Homo sapiens: one gene and its partners. The protein of the gene in region 4 purifies or fractionates together with the protein of the main gene of each other region. This does not show direct contact. Each region holds a gene or a part of one and is shown on either strand. Other genes may lie near its edges.

Evidence for each region.
Region 1: the proteins of PREPL (region 4) and XPNPEP3 purify together in Homo sapiens (co-immunoprecipitation; one large-scale study listed by IntAct). This does not show direct contact.
Region 2: the proteins of PREPL (region 4) and ALDH1L1 purify together in Homo sapiens (co-immunoprecipitation; one large-scale study listed by IntAct). This does not show direct contact.
Region 3: the proteins of PREPL (region 4) and GOT2 purify together in Homo sapiens (affinity purification with mass spectrometry, with the first as the bait; one large-scale study listed by BioGRID). This does not show direct contact.

Annotation. Positions count from the first base shown.
Region 1 is NC_000022.11:40,862,498-40,868,189, forward strand, and holds part of XPNPEP3 (xaa-Pro aminopeptidase 3), read left to right. Parts: exon of another isoform or gene 1-275; intron 276-5,692. UniProt on the Homo sapiens protein: Catalyzes the removal of a penultimate prolyl residue from the N-termini of peptides, such as Leu-Pro-Ala. Also shows low activity towards peptides with Ala or Ser at the P1 position.
Region 2 is NC_000003.12:126,155,387-126,161,078, forward strand, and holds part of ALDH1L1 (cytosolic 10-formyltetrahydrofolate dehydrogenase), read right to left. Parts: intron 5,617-5,692; coding exon of another isoform or gene 5,594-5,616; coding exon 5,467-5,593; intron 5,052-5,466; exon of another isoform or gene 4,899-5,051; intron 4,790-4,898; exon of another isoform or gene 4,697-4,789; intron 3,254-4,696; coding exon 3,019-3,253; intron 2,123-3,018; coding exon 1,957-2,122; intron 118-1,956; coding exon 16-117; intron 1-15. UniProt on the Homo sapiens protein: Cytosolic 10-formyltetrahydrofolate dehydrogenase that catalyzes the NADP(+)-dependent conversion of 10-formyltetrahydrofolate to tetrahydrofolate and carbon dioxide.
Region 3 is NC_000016.10:58,727,817-58,731,316, forward strand, and holds part of GOT2 (aspartate aminotransferase, mitochondrial isoform 1 precursor), read right to left. Parts: intron 1-3,500. UniProt on the Homo sapiens protein: Catalyzes the irreversible transamination of the L-tryptophan metabolite L-kynurenine to form kynurenic acid (KA). As a member of the malate-aspartate shuttle, it has a key role in the intracellular NAD(H) redox balance.
Region 4 is NC_000002.12:44,353,949-44,359,640, forward strand, and holds part of PREPL (prolyl endopeptidase-like), read right to left. Parts: coding exon of another isoform or gene 5,549-5,692; intron 1-5,548. UniProt on the Homo sapiens protein: Serine peptidase whose precise substrate specificity remains unclear. Does not cleave peptides after a arginine or lysine residue. Regulates trans-Golgi network morphology and sorting by regulating the membrane binding of the AP-1 complex.

The DNA of each region.
Region 1 (5,692 bases), on a different chromosome or scaffold from region 4:
ATTTCAGTCAAGAAACAGTTCAGAGGGAGATACAAACAAGTAACTTAGTTACAATATAATAGTTATGATGAGAGGAAGTACTGGATGCTAAACAATTATATGAGAGACAGCTCAGGCTGGGGGTGTCAATGAAAGCCTCTTGGAGGAAGTAGCCTGATATGTTAACTTTCTGCATGCCAGTGGTAAGTCATTTGAGATTATAGTATCTTTGTCCACCCAAGGTTTACTGCTGTAAAACATGTAATTAAAGATTTGGAAAGTTGTGTGTTTATGTATTCACTGTATAATTATTGATTGTCTACTTTGTGCCAGGCACCGTTTTAGCCACTGGTGATAGCAGTATTGAACAAAAGACACCAGTTTTCCTGGTGCTTGCATTATAATAGAATACAAATAGGAGAACAAATAAAATAATTTAAGATAATGCGATATGTGCTCCAAAAAAAATAGCAATGTGCTGGGGGCAGAGCGCTACTTTAGATTGGTTTTAGAAGGCTTCTGAGGAGATGACATTATTGCTGAGACCTATATGACAGTCAGCCACATAGTGATCTAATATGGTAGCCACTGGCCATGTTGATGGACATTTTGGTTGTTGCCAGTTGGGGCTGTTGGACATAAAGCTAGCACTTATTTCAAGTACAGTGGGAAGCCTTTGTGGGGAGTGGGGAATATGCAAGTTTAATGATGTGATTTACATTTGTAATGGATCAGTGGCTACTATTTGGAAATTCAGTCATGTATGGGAAAGTAGAATTCGAGAGCCAAATTAGAAACAGACCAAAGGTGATTTTCTTTGGGGATAAACTACCAGTAGTCTAGACCCGAATTTAAAGGTCTTATATTCTATACCTGGCTCATTTTATTGTCTGAGAAAATTCCCTGTAATCTTTGTTTTTCCTCCTCTATGTTGTGTTTATTTTATTTTCCATCACATTTATAACCCCTCAGTTAAATGATACGCTAATGAAATCTAAAACTGTAGTGTATGCTTCTAGTCTTTCAAGACCATTTGTCAGGTCTGAATATTTTTTTGCTTTGCATTTTTATATATACTCATTTTTTAGAGGTATTGTGAAATGCTTAAAACTCAATTTAAATTCTCTCCAGTGTATGTGCTTACATGTACTTATGTGTGGCTTACCCATGATTATAATTTGCCTACCACTGGAAATAATAACCAATAATGTCGAAAATTATTTGAGTACCCTCTGAGTCACACTGTAGCAAGTGCTCATTTAACTGACACAGCACTCTAGCAAAATAAATATTTTATGCCCATAAGAAAACAGACGTTCTGAGAGAGAAAGTAATTTGTCTAAGGCTACATAGCTTGTTAGTGAAAAATCTGATTTTTAAACTTGAGTCTAATTTCAAGTTCTCATTCCACTCTACTGCATTTCTCGGACTAGGACTTAAAGAGTTTAGGTTCTAGGCATTCCACAAACAGATACTGAGAACCTGCTGTTACCGGAAAGGGGTCCCAATCCAGACCCCAAGAGATGGTTCTTGGATCTCGTGCAAGAAAGAATTTCAGTGGAATCCACAGAGTAAAGTAAAAGCAAGTTTATTAAGAAAGTAAAGGAATAAAGAATGGCTACTCCATAGGCAGAGCAGCCCCAAGGGCTGCTGGTTGCCCATTTTTATGGTTATTTCTTGATTATATCCTAAACAGGAAGTGGATTATTCATGCTTCCCCATTTCAGACCATATAGGGTAACTTCCTGACGTTGCCATGGCATCTGTAAACTCTTGGGGTGCTGGTGGGAGTGTAGCAGTGAGGACAATCAGAGGTTACTGTCATTGCCATCTTAGTTTTAGTGGGGTTTGGCCAGCTCCTTTTTTTAAGAACATCACAGGTAAAGCTCACAGGAAGGTGACAGTCTAGGAGAAGATGTTCGCAGTGTCTAAATTTGACAGGGACTTATTTTATTTTCATTATTATTGTTACTATTATTATTATTTGAGGTGGAGTTTCGCTCTTATTGCCCAGGCTGGAGTGCAATGGTGGGGTCTTGGCTCACTGCAACATCTACCTCCCGGGTTCAAGCCATTCTCCTGCCTCAGCCCGCTGAGTAGCTGGGATTACAGGCATGCACCACCACGCCCGGCTAATTTTGTATTTTTAGTAGAGAGGGGGTTTCTCCATGTTGGTCAGGCTGATCTCGAACTCCCAACCTCAGGTGATCTGCCCGCCTCAGCCTCCCAAAGCGCTGGGATTACAGGCATGAGCCACCGCACCCAGCTGGTCAGCTTCTTTACTATAACCTACCTGTTTTATTAGCAGGGTTTTTGTGTCCTGCATTTTGTGCTGACTTCCTATTTCATTCTGTGATTAAGACTGCCTTAACTTACTGGGAATGTAGCCCAGTAGGTCTTAGCCTTATTTTACCAAACCCCTACTGAAGATGGAGTTGCTCTGGTTCAAACGCCTCTGACACTATGATACAGAGAAAAGGTAGAAAATAGGAAATTCTGCTCTTAAGAAATTCATATAGTTTGAAAAAACTAATTTCAGTGGAGTGTAAAGTTATAATACGAGCACTTGTTTCTGCAGTTATACCCTTCTTTGTTGATCCTTTGCCTCCCAGCCATCCGCTGTGCCATTTTCTCTGCCTCTTCACAACAAAACTTATCCAGAGTATTGTCTCAGTGTCTTTGCTTTCTTACATCCTATTCCCTCCTTGGCATACTCCAATCTGTCTTCTGTCTTCTTTACTCTGCTAAAATCGCCAGGGTCTCCAGTGATTGATGTTACCATATCCAGTGGTTGTCCTTTTGGCTTCCTTGTATTTTGAAGCACTTGCCACACTGTGAGCCCTCCTCACTTTTTTTTTTTTTTTTTTTTGAGATGGAGTTTCACTCTCGTTGCCCAGGCTAGAGTACAGTGGTGTGATCTCGGCTCACTGCAACCTCTACTTCCCAGGTTCAAGCCATTCTCCTGCTTCAGCCTCCCGAGTAGCTGGGATTACAGGCATGTGCCACCATGCCTGGCTAATTTTGTATTTTTAGTAGAGACAGGGTTTCTCCATGTTGGTCAGGCTGGTCTCGAACTCCCGACCTCAGGTGATCCACTTGCCTCGGCCTCCCAAAGTGCTGGGATTACAGGTGTGAGCCACTGCGCCTGGCATAGTCCTCCCCACTTCTTAAAACACTTGTTTTTTAACTTCCTAAATACCACACTCTTTTTTTGTGGGGGGCGGGGGGGCAGCGGGTAGAGACAGGGTTTAGCCATGTTGGCCAGGCTGGTCCCGAACTCCTGGCCTCAAGTGATCTGTCTGCCTGCCTCGGCCTCCCAAAGTGCTGGGATTACAAGCATGAGCCACCATGCCCAGCACTAAATACTGTACTCTTCTAGTTTTCCTTCTTTCTCCTGTGCTCTTTCTCACACTAAAATATTACAGTGCCAGGCTTTGTTCAGTCTCCCTGGGTAATACCCATTCCCAGGGCTTTAGATGCCATCTGTGTGCTTATAACACCCTAATTTATATATCTAGCCTAGCACTTTTCTCCCTGAAATTAAGATTGCTCTTTGACCTCTCCATTAAATTTATTTCCAATAAATATCTCAGGCTTTCCTGTTGCATGTAGTGGTACAACCATTTATTCACTTGTTCAAGTCAAAAATCAAGAATTATTCTTAATTCCTCTTTTTTCTTTATTTCTTATGTCCAATTAGAAGCCAGACTCATTGACTTTTAACTTCAAAATACATTTCAAATCAAGTCACTGGGAAAATAAAGTCAAATAACAAGTGATCTCTGCTTCCAAAGATTGTTCATAGTAGACTGGCAAACTAATTAGCAATTATGTGAAGTGTAGTAGGTATTAAAATAGAAATCATAGGAGCGTTGGGGAAGACATCTGAAACAAGCAGAACAGAGGCAGTAGGTGTGAGAAGAGTAAGAGAAGTCTCTTGCGTAAGTGATGTTTGAGCTGGTATTTTTTAGAATTTCTGTAATCGTATAAGCAGGCAGTGTCCACTTTAGACTAAGAGAACTATATTTTTTAATGCAAATGCTATTATGATGCAGAATGATTTAGCCGGGGTTCTTCAAGTAGCTTAGTGTGGCTGCAATAATGTTTTTTGAGGATTAGGTCAGATAAGGGAGCAGGATCCAAATCATGAAGTTTCCTAAGCAAAAGAGTTTGAAGCTTATGAACTGGATATTTTTGAAATAGGACTTAACACACCAGCTTTGCTACTAATTATATGACTTCGGGCAAAAGATGTTTAATGTAAGTAAAAAGCTATTGAGACCTTTTTTAAAAATTTACTGGGAATAAACATCTTAATTTATGTCTCCTGTTAAAGTGTTACTTGTTTGCTTTGAATTTAATAAAGTTAAGCTCCCTCTGCTTGAGAGTGGTCCAAAATATGCTAGGATTATTTCATATGAGCATTGAAAAAGGAATCAGTTAACTTTTTATATTCTGAAATTTTACTGCCTAATGAGATTACAGAAGACACTATGTGTGCATGAGTACGTGTGCACGAGCGTGCATGTGGAGAAGGTGCAGGAGGAGAGAAAGAGAAATCACCAATGCAACAGCAGCCTACTCCACCAGTGGGTTAGTGCTGCTGGAGGGAGATGAAAAGATTAGGAAGGTAAGATAGCTTTGAAGGCTTTGTATTCTAAATTAAGGAGTTAGATTTTTAACTGTCACGTGAGGTAGGCATTATCATCATTATTTTACAAACACAGAATCAGACTCAGAGAAGTAATCTGGACAAGGTTACACACTTAGTACCAGAGAAGCTGAGATTCAAACTCAGGTTTATTTGACTTCATAATCTTTGCTCTTATCCCTCCCCCTTGCCGCTCACTAGGTCCTCTCTGTTTAATCTCAACAATCAATACTGTACAATCTCCTTGTGAACATACAATTTCTGTAAGGACTATGAATTATGAATAATAATATATGTATTTGGGAGAGAAGAGTCTTAAAAGTTAATTCCAGTTTGTAGAAGATTGTTTAGAAAAATCATAGCTTCTTCTAAAAAGATTTAAAAAAAAGAAAAATCATAGCTTCTAAGATGATTACAAAGAAATTGGTGTGGGTTTCCAACCTGGGCAACATAGTGAGACCTCATCTCTACCAAAAATAAAAAAAATTAACCAGTCTTGGTGGCACATACCTGTAGTCCCAGCTACTTGGGAGGCTGAGCCACTGACTCCAGCCTGGGCAACAGAGTGAGACTCTGTCTTAAAAATAAATAAATGAATAAATATTGAAGGAGAGAAGGAAGGAAATATTAGTTTGCATTTTTCTAAAGCATCCAAACTGTTGGAGATGGATAAGTGCATTTATACCATGAAGACTTTCTAGATCTATTGTTTCATTTCATTTATTGCCTAAGCCCAGAGGAACAAAGCTGCAGTGAGCTATGATCATGCCACTACACTCCAGCCTGGGCGACAGAGTGAGACCTGTCTCAAAAAAAAAAAAAAAAAACCCAACAAACAAAACTCCTTATGTGTGAATCCACTGTTGCATTCACCATTTAATATTGTAATGCTCTATTTTGTCTCACCTCCACTAGACTGTGCATTCTTTAAAGACCACAGCATATAGCCTTGTCATTCATGTGTCTTTCTTTGAGCATGTTCCAATCATGTGCAAAGAATTTTTTAATTAATGCTAATAACTAACATTTGTTGTACTCTATGATTAAGCATTTTTCATAAAT
Region 2 (5,692 bases), on a different chromosome or scaffold from region 4:
GGACCCAGCACTCACCTTGGCTGTCTCCTTCTTCTGAATCCCCTCATAGGTGGCTCCTTCCTCAGGCTGAGGGAGTCTGGGGGCTTTGCCCTCAGCGATCAGCCTCACGGCCTGCACCTGGGGAGATCCAGTGGGTTGCTATCCCCAGCAATAGGACCCTGCCTCCTTCCCAGCCCCAGGGCCCACATTGAGCCTGGACCCTTCCCCAGACTGACCAGACTTGCCTGGTACACAGCAGTCACCCAAGAAACACCTGCCATATGAACAAGGGAGTCAGCGTGAACCTAACTTCTATTGCACAACGGACACAGACCCGTCCTCTCTACCTGGCAAAGGTTTAGATTACATAGATCTTACATCTTCTGATATCTTAGATGATTATATAAACTGTAAAGCCCTGCAGGTATAACACAGACACAAATGTCCATGTTGCTGTCTAAGCCTTCTCTGCCTTTAAAGAGAGTGGGTCCTGAGCCCCGTGGTGGGCTTGAAGGTGGAAGTTTGGAGGTCTGAGATGAAGCAGGAAGTTGTTTCTCTGTGACAGGAAAGAGGAAGGTGGTGGGAAAGGAATCAGAGAGGGAGAAGGAGAGCCAAGGAGTCTGGGCCCACGTGAGCAAGAGCCTGAGGGAAGAGACCGGGAGGTGCCAAGAATGGGAAGTGACCGGGTGTCAGAGCATCTGAGGCAGGGCTGCCCAATGGAGCCCTCTGTGGTGATGGATGAGTTCCAAGTCTGCACGGTCCAACACGGTGGCCAGGGGACTTAGAATGTGGCTGAGACTGAGGAACTGAATTTTTCAGTATAATTCATTTTAATTGATTTAATAGCTGCATGTTACCAGTGGCTGCCTTGTTGGACAGTGCAGCTTCAAGGAGTATTTGAGTTGCTTGCCGTGGGAAGCACAGGTAAGCTCCCTCTCTGTACCACTAAATCTCCAGCAACTCTACTTTGTTCACTATTTTTGTGAGCTGGTCAATCTGTGGGGAAGACAAGTTTAACACAACCGAAAAATAAAAGGCAGTGGCCAGGAGCTGAGGAGGACGAGGGGACAGTGGACACTGCAGCTGCTCTTCCTGCTGCGCCCAAACAGCAAGGGCTCCCCAGGGCCTCCTTCCCTCCTGCTGCATGCCTGGACAGCACCTCTGCCTGTGGCCGTCCCTGCCAGCCTGTCCTCGGGCAGGGGCAAGCAGCCCTCACATATGATCCCCGGGCCCCTCCTGCAGCTGTGGGCTCCGGCCCATAGCCTGCCACCCTGCCTCTCAGCAGTACCAGCTGCCCAGGTGACTGAGCCGCCCTGCCGCTCAGGCCATGTGACCACAGGTCACGGCCTTCCCAGCAGGAAGCATGTGACGGAGACAGCCTATCAGAGCACTCCATCACCCCAGCTGGTGATTGGCTCATGAGGATCACATGACCCCCAAGCTGGCCAATCAGAATCTCCCCTGATTTGTGATTGATGAATTCTAGGAGAAAAAGTGTTTCTCTTTCCCTGGAATCAAGAATTAGAATCCTTGAGCTATAGTGGCTATCTTTCCTCTAATTCAGGGCAGCCAAACTGAGAATGAAACAAATCACACAGAGAAAAGGAGAATCAACGAGTGAAGGAGAGAGAAATAGAATCCTAACGATGTCATAATTGAAGCTCCTGGATTCAGCAGGGTGTGACCCAGTCCCTGCCTTTAGCCTTCCTTGTCTATTGAACGGGCCCCAAAATGTCCCCTTTTTGCCAAACGCTTTTTGAGCTGGGTTCTGTCCGTTGTGAGCAAGATTCCCTCCTAATACAATACACTGTTTGTCCTAATCCTGCCTCTGAAACCTTGAAGTGAGAGCTCCTCTCCCTCCAGAATCCTGAATTTGGGGAACAGATTCCTGGCCTCCAGGAGCGGTGGGCTGGGTCTAGGGAGGATGCTTGAGGGTGCGTCGGGGCGGGCAGGGCGCGGCCGGCTCCAGGTCCTCACCATCCCTTTGATGCCTTCAGGGAAGAGGAAGCGGTTGTACAGCGTGCTCACGGTGTCGTCCGGGAGCACCTCACACTCCTTCTGCAGCAGCAGGTCTCCGGTGTCCAGACCATCATCCGCCCAGAAGATGGAAAACCCCCCTTTCTTATCTCCGTGAATGAGGGTCCTAGGAAGCAGAAGAGTGAAACCTGGAGTCCACGATGAAGGGCCACGGAGGATGTCCTGGGTACAGGCCCGTGGACCTGCCACCCTCCAGGAGGCCCTCTCTTCCCAGGGGTAGGACTGACACCGGCTCCGGCGGGAAACGGAAGAAGGAAAACAGCATGTATTGATAACAACCATGGGCCAGGAATTGTGCTAAAAGCTCTATATGCCTTATGTAACTGAGTCCTCACAGCAGGGATAACAGGTATACTCGGTTTACAGATAGGGAAACTAAGGCCCAGAAAAGTGAAGCGACACCCACAAAGATCAGAGAGCCTGAATCTCAACAGACCAGTCCGACTACAAATCCACTCTCTTTTCTCAACTCAAATGTCTTCCCTCTTTGACCACCCATCTGCCTTGTCACCCCATTTGTTGTCTTGGGAATTCTGTCCCCTCAGAGTACCTTGTGGAGGCCATCCTTTGCTCCATCTTTATCTCTTTCTACGAAGTGTGCTGCCCAGAGCAGCGGCAGTGGAAGTTAGAGTAGGACCCCCAGCCCACCGCCTGGGGTGGCACCCTGGCCCCTGCGCCTCCTGGTGCCCTCTCTGTCCCTGCGCCTTCTGGTGCCCTCTCTGTCTCAGCTGGGGGATGGGAACACTGACAGTGCCAGCTTCTCCAATAACTGTGGGAATGCAGAGTGCTTAGCAACACCTGCTCCCAGTGCTCTAGAGCCTTCACTCATTGATAACGTTGCACAGCCTGTTCTGTGGCTGACATCTGGCAGCCACAGGACAGGCACCTGCACGATGCCCACTCTGCAGCCCTAGAAATGCTTTGGGCTAATGGAAAGTGACAAGTCAGGCTGATGGAGGGACATGTATGGGGATGGCCCCCTGTGTTTTTGCCCCATCTCACCAGTTGATGGCCGAGGCCCCTCGGTGCCTAGGGAGCAGTGACGGGTGATAGATGATGGAGCCATGCCGGGGGGCACTGATTATCTCCATGGGGATGAATTGGCTGCAGAAGGGCAGGACGTTGAGCTCGGCCCCCAAAGCCTGGTATTTTGCCACCACATCAGGCAAAGCCTGTCCTTTTGCACGCCACCGGGAGTACTTGAATACCGGCACTCCATCCTTCTCAGCTTCCAGACCTGTGGGACGGTGGATAAGAAACTGGCCCCTCTCCATAACCCACCCACACGCAGCCACCTCTGCCTTCCCAGCAGAGCAGCTCATAGGACTTCTCTCCATTCCTGCCCCCTCACCCACACCCCAGCCAGGCTCCACTGGGCAACACAGACGGATGCACCAGCCAAGCATGAGGCTCTGGGGACTGCCCTGCCTGCATCCTGACTTTTGCTGAACCCCAGGACCTCTGAGTGCCTCCCTCTTCCAGAACCCAGATGGCTGACCTCTGCCCTCATTCCTCTCCTGAGGCCTTGCCATCCCCGTCACTGAGTTACTGTCTTCCGGCCCCCTCTACTGCTCACTCTGTGATGGGGACTGCCCCCCTGCAGATGGCATTTCTGCTTTGTCAGCTGTTCCCTGATGGAGGAAGAAGGGGAAGAAGGGCAACAGGGCATCCCCACTCCTTTCTGTCCAGTGGGTTCCTGTCCTGTGAGCCTCCCCCAGCCCAGCTTCTTCATCCCAGTCACAGTCGTTCCTTCTCAGAGCAATGGCTAAATCAGTTTTTCCATCATCTGCAGAACTAGCCTCAATATGCACACATGCGTGCACACACACACACACACACACACACCCCAGAGGACCAGATACAGCCTGCAGGGCCCCTCCTCCTGCCCCGTCACCAGCACACCCTCCTCACAGGTCTGGATTACAGGCCCAAGCTCCCAAGTTTTTATAGTTAAAGCGTCCTCCTTTATCTTAGCCTTACAGTGGCAGCTGCTTCCTGCAGTCGCTGTCCCCAATAACTTTGGGCTCTCTGCCTTCCACTCTTCAATACCCAAGGAACACTTCTTTGTATTCAGTTCTCTGTTAGAGCCTCTGGTGTGATGTTTGGGCCCTGACTGGACTGGCTCTCCTCTCCGGTCTCCTCCTCTGTCACTCTGTCCTGGTGTCTGGTAGTTTTGAGAGAGGGTGGGATGTGATGTCAGCAGATTGGACTGCACTTGCAAAAGCTGTCCCACAGTGACCAATGAAATACTGCTTCAGGACATCTGAGATCAAGGCCAAGTAGGAGTCCCAGCCAGGCCTGGTCTGGGTCCAGGGTCAGCAGCTGGGGTCAGTGGTCACTTAGTGGCTGGGTGTAGGACCCAGGCTGTGGTGGGGTCAGGGTATGTCATGGGTCACTTGTGGTCAGGTCCAAGACTGAAGCCTGGCTGGCATTGGGTGTTGAGTGTTGGAGTTGATTCTAGGGCCAGGCTGCAGCTTCCCCACTGAGGGAGACTGGCTTTCCTTAACAAACTACACCTCTGTGCCTGGCCAGGCCTACAAGCCCCCTTTCCTAATCCTGGCCCTCTATCCTTAAGCCCTGCCCCACAGTCTGTCTCCATCAGGCCTGAGAAGGACCAGTCAGTGTTCCTAGAGGGTCTGTTCATCCAAGCTGAGGCCCCTGCATCCTGTCTGCTGAGGTTCCCAGCTCAAAGGCAGTGACCCAGACCCATGATTCTCAAAACGTGCTTTTCCTAGTACAAGAGATGCCAGTATCTCCCAGGAACTTGTCCCAGGTTAACAATTTCACCTAATTCTGACTTTTCCACCTCATTCTGAATCCGAAACTCTCAGGGTGCGCTTAGTACTCTCTGTGTTTTTTTCTTTTCTTTTACAAAATGCCAGGGGAGAGTGCAAATGCAGTTCCCCATTACCACAAATTATGAAGTCGAGTTTCCCACCTTTGGGGAAATTGCAGGGATCAGCACATCCAGAGTACAATGGAGAAGACTCGCCCTGGGAAAACCACCTTTGTGATCATGGTCTCTCCCCTGATGGGTAAGTAGAGCACTATGTGTTTTGACGGCAGCCCCAGCAATGGTGATGCCGCGCATGCCCACCTTTCAGAATATGGACCCCCAGTTCAGAACATGGAGACCTTCCCAATCATGGGTGCTGGGTCAGAGAAGCTCTGTGTGGGACCTGGGACCAGGCTGGGCTTCTCTATAGCCCTTCTCCAGGACCCTAATGCCACCCCATGATCAGGTGGGGAGGGGATCTCCAATTTATTCCAGAAAAGCCCAGCAGCCTGTTGGCACTGGAGCAGGATTCAAGGTAGACCACTTATGGCTGCCTCCCAGCTAGAGCACAGGCCCTGCAGACTTCTGCTCCCAGACTCCCACCTACTGCTTCCCTTCTACCTGGATGGGCGGGCCGCCCTCCATCAGCTTCCCTGCTCCATTGGCTCACTCACCCAGGGGGTCGGCCTTTCCATCCTTGTCTGGAACAGTGAACACACCCACCACTTCGTGGCCCTCCTTCCTCAGGTGGCAGTAAACTTCCTGGCCAAACAGGCTCTGTCCAATCACTGCAATCTTCATGGTAGCAGGAGGGTTGGAAGGACCTGGAGAAGGAATAAGGCAGCAATTAGACAGAGATCGCTGGTCTCAGAGAAGCCAGCCCTGGTTCAAGACAGGGCA
Region 3 (3,500 bases), on a different chromosome or scaffold from region 4:
GGTGAGAAGGAGCTGGGGGTTGTTGCAGGAGAATCGCTCAAGTTCTCCTAGTAATCACTCATCCACTGTGAATCAGCCACATGTTTCAGTATGGTACCATGGAAGTTCTCCGTGTTCACCATGCTGATAAACTCGTGAATTACCTCATGAACATTTCTTTCCCAACAAAGGTTCTCTTAATGTACTTGTGGCTAGTCAGCACTCATACACCTCACTCCTCCATGGGGCACACTTGATGGCAGTACAGAGTTTAATTCATGCTCCCTTGACAAGTTAAAGACTGCTGCAGTCTCAATCGTTGTAATTAATTAGTGTGTACAGTCAATTCTCTGTTATTAAAGGGCAGATTATTTCCAGTTTTTTGGATTTCCCAGGCTCTTATTTCTTGTAATGTTTCTTTTAATAGTTTGCCTTGGGTAATTTCAGTACTGGGCAAACTGTACGGATTCAAATAATAGCTCAGCCACCTGCCAGCTGTGTGAGCACTGGCAAGTAAATCAAGCATCAACTTTCCTTATCTGTAAAATGGGGCCATAAAACTACCTATCTCACAGGGCTGGTCTAATGATGAAAAAAACACTCAAAACCTAAATTGGCAGAGTGCCTGATGTTCGCTAATAGTCATCGTTACTAAATTATTATCACTCCACTTTTATTTGTAACCATCCTGCATCCTAGTACAGAGCCTGGTGAGGCCAGTATGTAGAGAATTCAAGGAGCATATGCAGCCGTAAGACCTTGTGACCAAATGCAGGTCCTTTCTGTTTTTCTTTCTCTTTAAATACAAAGCAAATCAAGCATGGCTGTGGGGGGAGACAATGTTAATCAGTTTAACAATAACCCACAACCCTCCAACCAACCTTTTCTGCTTTTCTTTTTTTTGAGACAGAGTCTCACTGGGTTGCCCAGGCTGAACTGTAGTGGCACGATCTCAGCTCACTGCAAGCTCCACTTCACGGGTTCAAGCGATTCTCCTGCCTCAGCCTCCCAAGTAGCTGGGATTATAGGCACCCGCCACCACGCCCGGCTAATTTTTTTATTTTTATTTTTAGTAGAGATGGGGTTTTGCCATGTTGGCCAGGCTGGTCTTGAACCCCTGACCTCAAGTGATCTGCCCGCCTCAGCCTCCCAAAGTGCTGGGATTACAGGCGTGAGCTACCGCACCCGGCCCTTTTCTGCTTTTCAATTACTACTGCATAGTTTTTTCTAGAGAATCAGGAGACACTGCCATTATCACCCTTCCCCCTCACTAGTGTTGGTGCCAGTTCTTTTAATAGCTTGCCTCTCATTTTGTGTTGCTGTGGCTCTAGGTTGCTTGGCTGTTCCTAGTACCTAGGCAATAGTAAGAAGCACAGATACCTTAAACCAACTTCTGAACTGGGCCTGAAGAAAGCTTTCATTATTACTTATCCACAATTCAGACCCTGAAAACATGCAGCCACCTGTCTATCTACATCACTGTCATTAACTGCCGAGTGAAAGGAATACCCTGAATGTCAAGGACATACTAGATTATAAAAGAGAACACTTCTGGAAAAGTTTTCATTTTTCAAAAGATGGTCTGGCTGGGCATAGTGGCTCTTGCCTGTAGTCCCAGCTACTCAGGAGGCTGAGGTGGGAGGGTCACTTAAGCCTAGTGTTTGAGACAAGCCTGGGCTACATAGAGACCCTGTCTCAGGAAGAAAAAAAAAAAAAAAGAAAAAGAAAAAGAAAAAACAATGGTCTGTATCCTCCAAGACCCTCAATCATAACAAAGCCACTGCCCATTGCTCCCTACCACAAGGAGAGAAAGCATCATTCTTGTTAAATGGTGTGAAAAGCACTTATTTTTCAAGTTCTTTAAAATGTTAAGCATAGAAACTCAGAAACCATAGACTTGTGTCTTCTGGTATACCTTTTAAGAATTCTTTTTTTTTGTTTTTGTTTTTGCTTTGGAAAATGACATGTTTTTATCGCTATGTTTGCACAGTAAGAATGTCCCCGCAGGCCCACCACCCTCCCTCAGCCCCAGCCCTCCAGCCTCTGTCTTTTAAGAATTCTAAACACAATTTCAAAATACTGAATTTTTAAACAATCTAAATATAGGAGCAGGGATACTCAATTTTTTTTTTAAAAATGTAATAAATTATGTTCATTTTACAATTACAATGCTAGTTTTGAGATTGAAAATGAAGTACAGATTAAAGAACACAGGTATGAAAACTATGTATCTATTGCTTGAGACAAGTTTATAATCCAGATCACAAGGAAAGTTATTCTTAGCCAGAGAGAGAGGAAGGGGTTGCCTAGCTAGGGAACACTGACAATTTATGGAGACATTTCTGTTTGTTGAAACTCTGGGGGAAAGCAGGTGCTACTAGCATCTGAAGGGCAGAGGCATGGGAGGTTTTTTTAACTTTTATTTCAGGTTCACGGGTACATGTGCATGTCCTGGGGGTTTGGTGTACAGATAATTTCATCATCTGGGTAATAAGCATAGTACCTGACAGTTATTTTTTCTGATTCTCTCCCTCTTCCCATTCTCTACCCTCAGGTAGGCTCCAGTGTCTGTTGTTCCCCTCCTAGAGGGATACAATTTTTTTTTTTGAGACAGGGTCTCACTCTGTCACCCAGGCTAGAATGCAGTGGCGTGACCACGGCTCACTGCAGCCTCTACCTCCCGGGCTCAAGTGATCCTCCCCGAGTAGCTGGGACTATGGGTGTGTGCCACCGTGCCTGGCTAGTTTTTTGTAGAGATGGGGTTGTGCCATATTGCCCAGGTTGGTCTCCAACTCTTGAGCTCAAGTGATCCTCCTACCTTAGCATCCCAAAGTGCTGAGATTACAGGTGTGAGCCACGGCACCTGGCCTAGAGGGAATACTCAATTTGATTAGCCCCACATTAGTAACCATCTTTCAACTCCTCCATGCCTTTCATTATTCCATTTCTTAAAATGGTAAAGACTACACACATATTGTAAGAACTCTGATGTTTTTAAAGGAATCGAGTAGATGAAAATAGGAGTGTTCTAGGGGCAAAACTCATGCTGATAACCTGTGACCTAGAAAGTGATTTCTATCAGTACATTTTGGATACAGGCACAAAGCCTCAAACATTGAGCAATATTGACTGGTCATCCAAGAGAGGTTAGGTACCAAGTATTCAGGTAAGCCTTTCCAATCGAAACGCATTGTAATTTCCCTGGAGCTTAAGCCTACTTAAAGTTTTACAGTTTTTAAACTGCTTTTCCTCACATTCTTCTTACTTTAAAATCAGAAGGGAAGTTAATTAGCTTGCCCACAATCACAGAGCTAAAAATGGCAGAGACAATAGCACAGCTGTGATCTTTTTTTTTTGAGACACAGTCTTGCTTTGTTGCTCAGGCTGGAGTGCAGCGGCGTGATCAGCGGGCTCACTGCAACTCTTCACCTCTCAAGCGATCAGGCTCGAGCGACCCTCCCACCTCAGCCTCCCAAGTAGCTGGGACTCCAGGTGCACATCACCATGCCCGGCTAATTTTT
Region 4 (5,692 bases):
TTAGGAGTTTGAGACAAGCCCGCACAACAAAGTGAGACCCTGTCTCCACACACACAAAAAATCAAAAAATTAGCTGGGCATAGTTGTGGGCCCAGCTACTTGCAAGGTAAGGCAGGAAGACAGCACGAGCCCAGGAGGTTGAGGCTGCAGTAAGCCATGTTTGTGCCTCTGCACTCCAGCCTGAGCAACAGAGTGAGGCCCTCTCTCAACAACAACAACAACAAAAAAAGTATCAAAGACCTAAAGAAAGAGCTCAGATGGGATGATTTCTGGGGTATGTTTTCTAGCAATAAAATTTATGGTTATATGAAAAGAAAAAATGCATTAATTTAACTATTAATTCATTCTATAAACACGTTGCTTATCTACAATGTGGCAGTCGTTATGCTATGTGCTGGCAAGATGTGTATTATAAAATTCTTGTCTTTAAGGACCTCCCAATATAATGGGGAGACAGGAAAAGTTTAAAATGATGTAGTAATAGCAGAGAGGTAAATATAGTGATTTGACTCCTATGGCTTCAACTACTATCTACATGTAACAACTCTCCCCAAATTCCAGACTCATATATCCAACTGCTACTGAAATCTCCACTTTACTAGTGAGTTATATTTATCCTTTCCTCCTCTCTTTTTTTTTTTTGAGATGGAGCCTCGCTCCCATCACACCAGGCTGGAGTGCAGTGGCACGATCTCAGATCACTGCAATCTCCACCTCCCGGGTTCAAGTGATTCTCCTTCCTCAGCGTCCCGAGTAGCTGGGATTACAGGCATGCGCCACCAGGCCCGGCTAAAATTTTTGGATTTTCAGTAGCAATGGGGTTCTGCCATGTTGGTCAGGCTGGTCTTGAACTTCTGACCTCAGGCAATCCACCCGCCTCAGCCTCCCAAAGTGCTAGGATTATAGGCGTGAGGCGCCACGCCCGGCCTTCTTCACCCTTAAGATCTGAATATCAGTAAGATTACATACATGACTGTGAAATAAGTCCATCTGAAACATAAAGATAAACCAGGTACGTTTTAGAATTTTGAGATTTTGGAATGTTAACTGGGTACCTTATCTCAGTTTACAGGGGAACAACACTCTAATCAAATGCAGTAACATTTTAGAGCTAAACATCTACTAATTGGGATAAAGATCATAATAGCTTTGTGTCAGTTTAGGTCAGGTTTTGCCCATTCTCAACAGCCTCCAATCAGTTAAAAAAAATCATTTGTTTTCTAACAGGCTTTTGGATTTTAGAATCCAAAGAGATGAGGAATTATCACTCAAGCTCTCTAGTCTTCCATTAAGATGTCTCAAATAAAATGTAATCAGGGCCAGCTGCGGTGGCTCATGCCTGTAATCCCAGCACTTTGAGAGGGCAAGGCAGGTGGATTGCTTGAGGCTGGGCTTCCAGACCAGCCTAGCCAACATGGCGAAACCCTGTCTCTACTTAAAATATAAAAAAATTAGCTGGGTGTGGTGGCACATGCCTGTAATTCCAGTTACTCAGGAGGCTAAGGCACGAGAATCACTTGAGCCTGGGAGGTGGAGGTTGCAGTGAGCAGAGACTGTGCCACTGCACTACAGACTGGGTGACAGAGTGAGACACTGTCTCAAAAAAAAGCAATCACCCTGTAAAGACTCTCATCTTCACTCATCTGAGTTACTGACAAGGCTTCCTACTTCCAATTTATTCTCTATTCTGTCAGAGTGATTCTTCTAAAATGCAAATCTGATTGCGCCTACATTTTTCAATAACATTCTATTGCTTAAAAGGATGTAGCTCAAACTTTTTGCAAGATATACAAAACTACATATTATATATATATATATATATATATATATACACACACACACACATATGAATATGAGACTATTGCAGGAGCTGCTAACCTGTATTGTAGAAATAGGCAAATGACATGTTTAACCAAAGGATTTAGTCTTCTCTCTTTAATTATACAATTTCATTTTGTATCTTGTTCAAATTATCACTATTAAAGATTTTGGGAATTATTTTTTAGGCAGAGCAGAGCAGGATGATGTGGAAGATAAAGAAATGTGATATCTGGATGGATGGATGCTAGTCTTTGAATATCACTGGCTGGCTTGTAAGTATAATAGAGTAAGTTCATCTTGCCATCTGGCTAATGTAAAATGGAAAGCAGAGGTACTTGCCAATAAGAACTGCAGAACTGAATGAATTCAATAAGGTTTAGATCGGCAACACTTGATCATCAAACATTTCCAATTTCTAAATTCAGGTCCAGTGTCAGTCAAGTTGTGAGTTCCAGAATTACCTGATGTGAACTTCAAAAAACAGATCTGGGGCCGGGCATGGTGGCTCACTCCTGTAATCCCAGCACTTTGGGAGGCCGAGGCAGGTGGATCACCTGAAGTCAGGAGTTCGAGACCAGCCTGACCAACGTGGTGAAACCCTGTCTCTACTAAAAAATACAAAAAAATTTAGCTGGGCATGGTGGTGGACGCCTGTAATCCCAGCTACTTGGCAGCTGAGGCAGGAGAATTGCCTGAATCTGGGAGGTGGAGGTTGCAGTGAGCCAAGATCATGCCATTGCACTCCGGCCTGGGCAACAAAGCAAGACTCCGTCTCAAACAAACAAACAAACAAACAAACAACAGATGTGTAGGCCTCAACCATAGAGATTTTCATTACGCAGATGTGGGGTGAGATCCAGGAATCCGCATTTCTAAAAAGCTCTCCAGGATTTCTGATATACAGTTAGACTGCAGAAGTTGATACTGAAGAGTCCCCAAACTTTTAGGCAGTAATTTGTTGCTAAGGTAACAAGAGGTATAGAATCATGAAATTTTAGCACCTCTAAGACTTTCTACAGAATGACAAGTTGAAACTCCCTATTTTTTTTTTTTTGAGACAGGGTATCCTTCTGTCACCCAGGCTGAAGATCTCACTGTGCCTCAACCTCACTGCAGCCTCGACCTCCCAGGCTGAATCAATCATCCCACATCAGCCTTCCAAGCAGCTGGGATTACAGGCGTGCGCCACCATACCCAGCTAATTTTTAGTCTTTTTGGTAGAGTTGGGGTTTTGCCATGTTGCCAAGGCTGGTCTCGAATTCCTGAGCTCGGACAATCTGCTCGCCTTGGCCTCCCAATGTTCTGGGATTACTGGCGTGAGCCAGTATGCCTGATCAGAACTCCCTATTTTTTTCAGTCAGGAAAATTAGGAGTCCTGATTAGTTCAGTCACACCAATCGTGGCTGGATCTTTTGCCTTCTAACATTCCCACTACACATGCTACTTTTCTGTTCCTTAGTTAACTTATATAGGTAATAGCTCTTTAAGCAGACATTTTAATTTACCTAAAAGCAGTAACTACTTTTTCTACTTTATTACACCCTATAAAAGTGGACAGAGTTGGAAATCAGTGGATGCTTGCTGAAAGAAGGAAATGTGCATTCTTCTCTACAGGTGTTTTCACAGCTGCCGGGGCATCTTTATAAAGCTTCCCCAGGTCTCAGTGATAAAGACCATGGCTTTTACATTACATCATTTCTCATAGAGGGAATGGTTGATACATGACATGTGACAGCAGGATTACTTTATCAGGTAAAGGAATTACTAAATGAACTATTAATACTTGGAGTTATTGAGTCAGGTTAAAGTTTCCAGGTAGTGGGAATCTATAAAAGAGAACGGAAAAGTTGCTTCAGGAACAAATGGAGGGAAGAAATAGTCAACCTTCTGTTTAGAATGTGAGCTAATATCACAGCTGTTACTCTGATGGTAATTCCTGTCTACTATTTATAAACTAAGTGTTAAGACAAAGTACGACATGACAAAATGTTCTAAACACAATGCAAAATAAAATAACCTAAAGGTCCAAAATTTAGTTCAATAGGTGAAATTAAAAATTTTATCTTTCTGAAGTAGGAAAGATGTACAAAAAACACAAAAATGAAATAAAAAGAAGTTATAAAGAATTTCTAAATGAGTAAAGAAAGTACTAAACTAAGGCAAGACACTACAAAAAGGAAAAGAATTTCAAAGACTAAAACATAAACAGTAAAAGTCTAGGAAGACTAGGGGGCTAACATATAAAATGTTAAAAGCAAAAGAGACACACACAACACCTAAATAGGTATCAGCTAAGATAGCGGCAAAAATTGAACAAAAACTAGAAAAACTGAGAAAAATTAGATTGAAAAGATAGTTTCTAAAATGAGAAGAATCTGCCCAAGTGTCCATCAATTACAGGAATGGATAAACAAAATGTGGTTTATACATACAAAGGAATATTATTCAACTATAAAAAGAAATGAAGTTATGATACATGCATACAACACAGATGAACTTTGAAAGCCACTGAATTGCATACTTTAAAATGGATCAAGTGGAAAACTTTGTTATACATATATTTTACCCGAAGAAAGGAGGAAGCCAAAACAGACTAAAAGAAAAATCAGTATGCGACAAAACCAGAAATTAAAATAAAAAAAATATTAAAATCATAAATTTGTGAAACTATTGCAAGAATACCACCCCCAAATATCATTAAGGAACCTAAGGAACATAAGAAGTAAAAGGTAGGAGAGGGATGTCAAAGCAGCAGCAGCACAAATAGATCATTTAATCCTACTTACTGTAGGATGACCATATAATTTACCATTCTAACCAGGACACTTTTGAGAGGAAAGGGGACACTATTAATAATTACACAGGGACAACAGGTGTAGGCTGGAGCTGTGCCAGGCAAAAGTGGTTATGTGGTTACTCTCTATATAAGGGCAATCAGGTCCTTAAGGTTGAGTTCACGCCCACAGCTTGGGGTCTGGCAGAAGTACAATACTCTGACAGTGTCTTCCTGAATGACTCAAGTGGTCAAAAACGCAAGATTATTTTTCATTTTTTTACAGAGAAATAAAATACAATTCATGGCCTTTACTGAAGTTTACTGATTTGTGATTCATAAAACAATTAGCGTATCATTAGATTTTATTAAGAGCTATAATTTAGTGTTCTAGGAAATTTAGAAGGCCGAATTATACTTTGAAATGCACTGGCAGGCATACTAAGGAAGTCCTGAGGTGAATCATTTTTTATAAACCTACATTTTTATATATTACATTAGAGCCCTATAAATATATGTATACACTTTTTTTTTTTTTTTTTTTTTCAGACAGAGTCTCCCTGTCACCCAGGCTGGAGTGCTGTGGTGCGATCTCAGCTCACCGCAACCTCTGCCTCCTGGGTTCAAGAGATTCTCTGCCTCAGCCTCCCAAGTAGCTGGGATTACAGGTGGGTGCCATGACGCCTAGCTAACTTTTGTATTTTTAGTAGAGACAGGGTTTTACCATGTTGGCCAGGCTGGTCTCGAACTCCTGACCTCAGGTGATCTGCCTGCCTCGATGTATATACTCTTTTATACTTACTTTTGACTAGAGACAATTGAGACTTGAAAATTAGAAAAATCAAGTTAGAATTACTGAGAAAATTAGTAGCTCTGATATTCTACCCATTCTTTATTTTTAAATTAAAATTAATCTTAATGACCTACAAATAGGTTAACTTAAACAGTCCATACCTTACATGAGAAGCTCCGACTTGGGATGTTTCTTGCTAACTCTGATATCTTGGGTTTATTCTGAAGACACTTGGTTAGGTGATATTTTTTCAATTTTATTCTATTGTAACAATGATCAGCGAAGTTATAGTGATTCAAATGCTG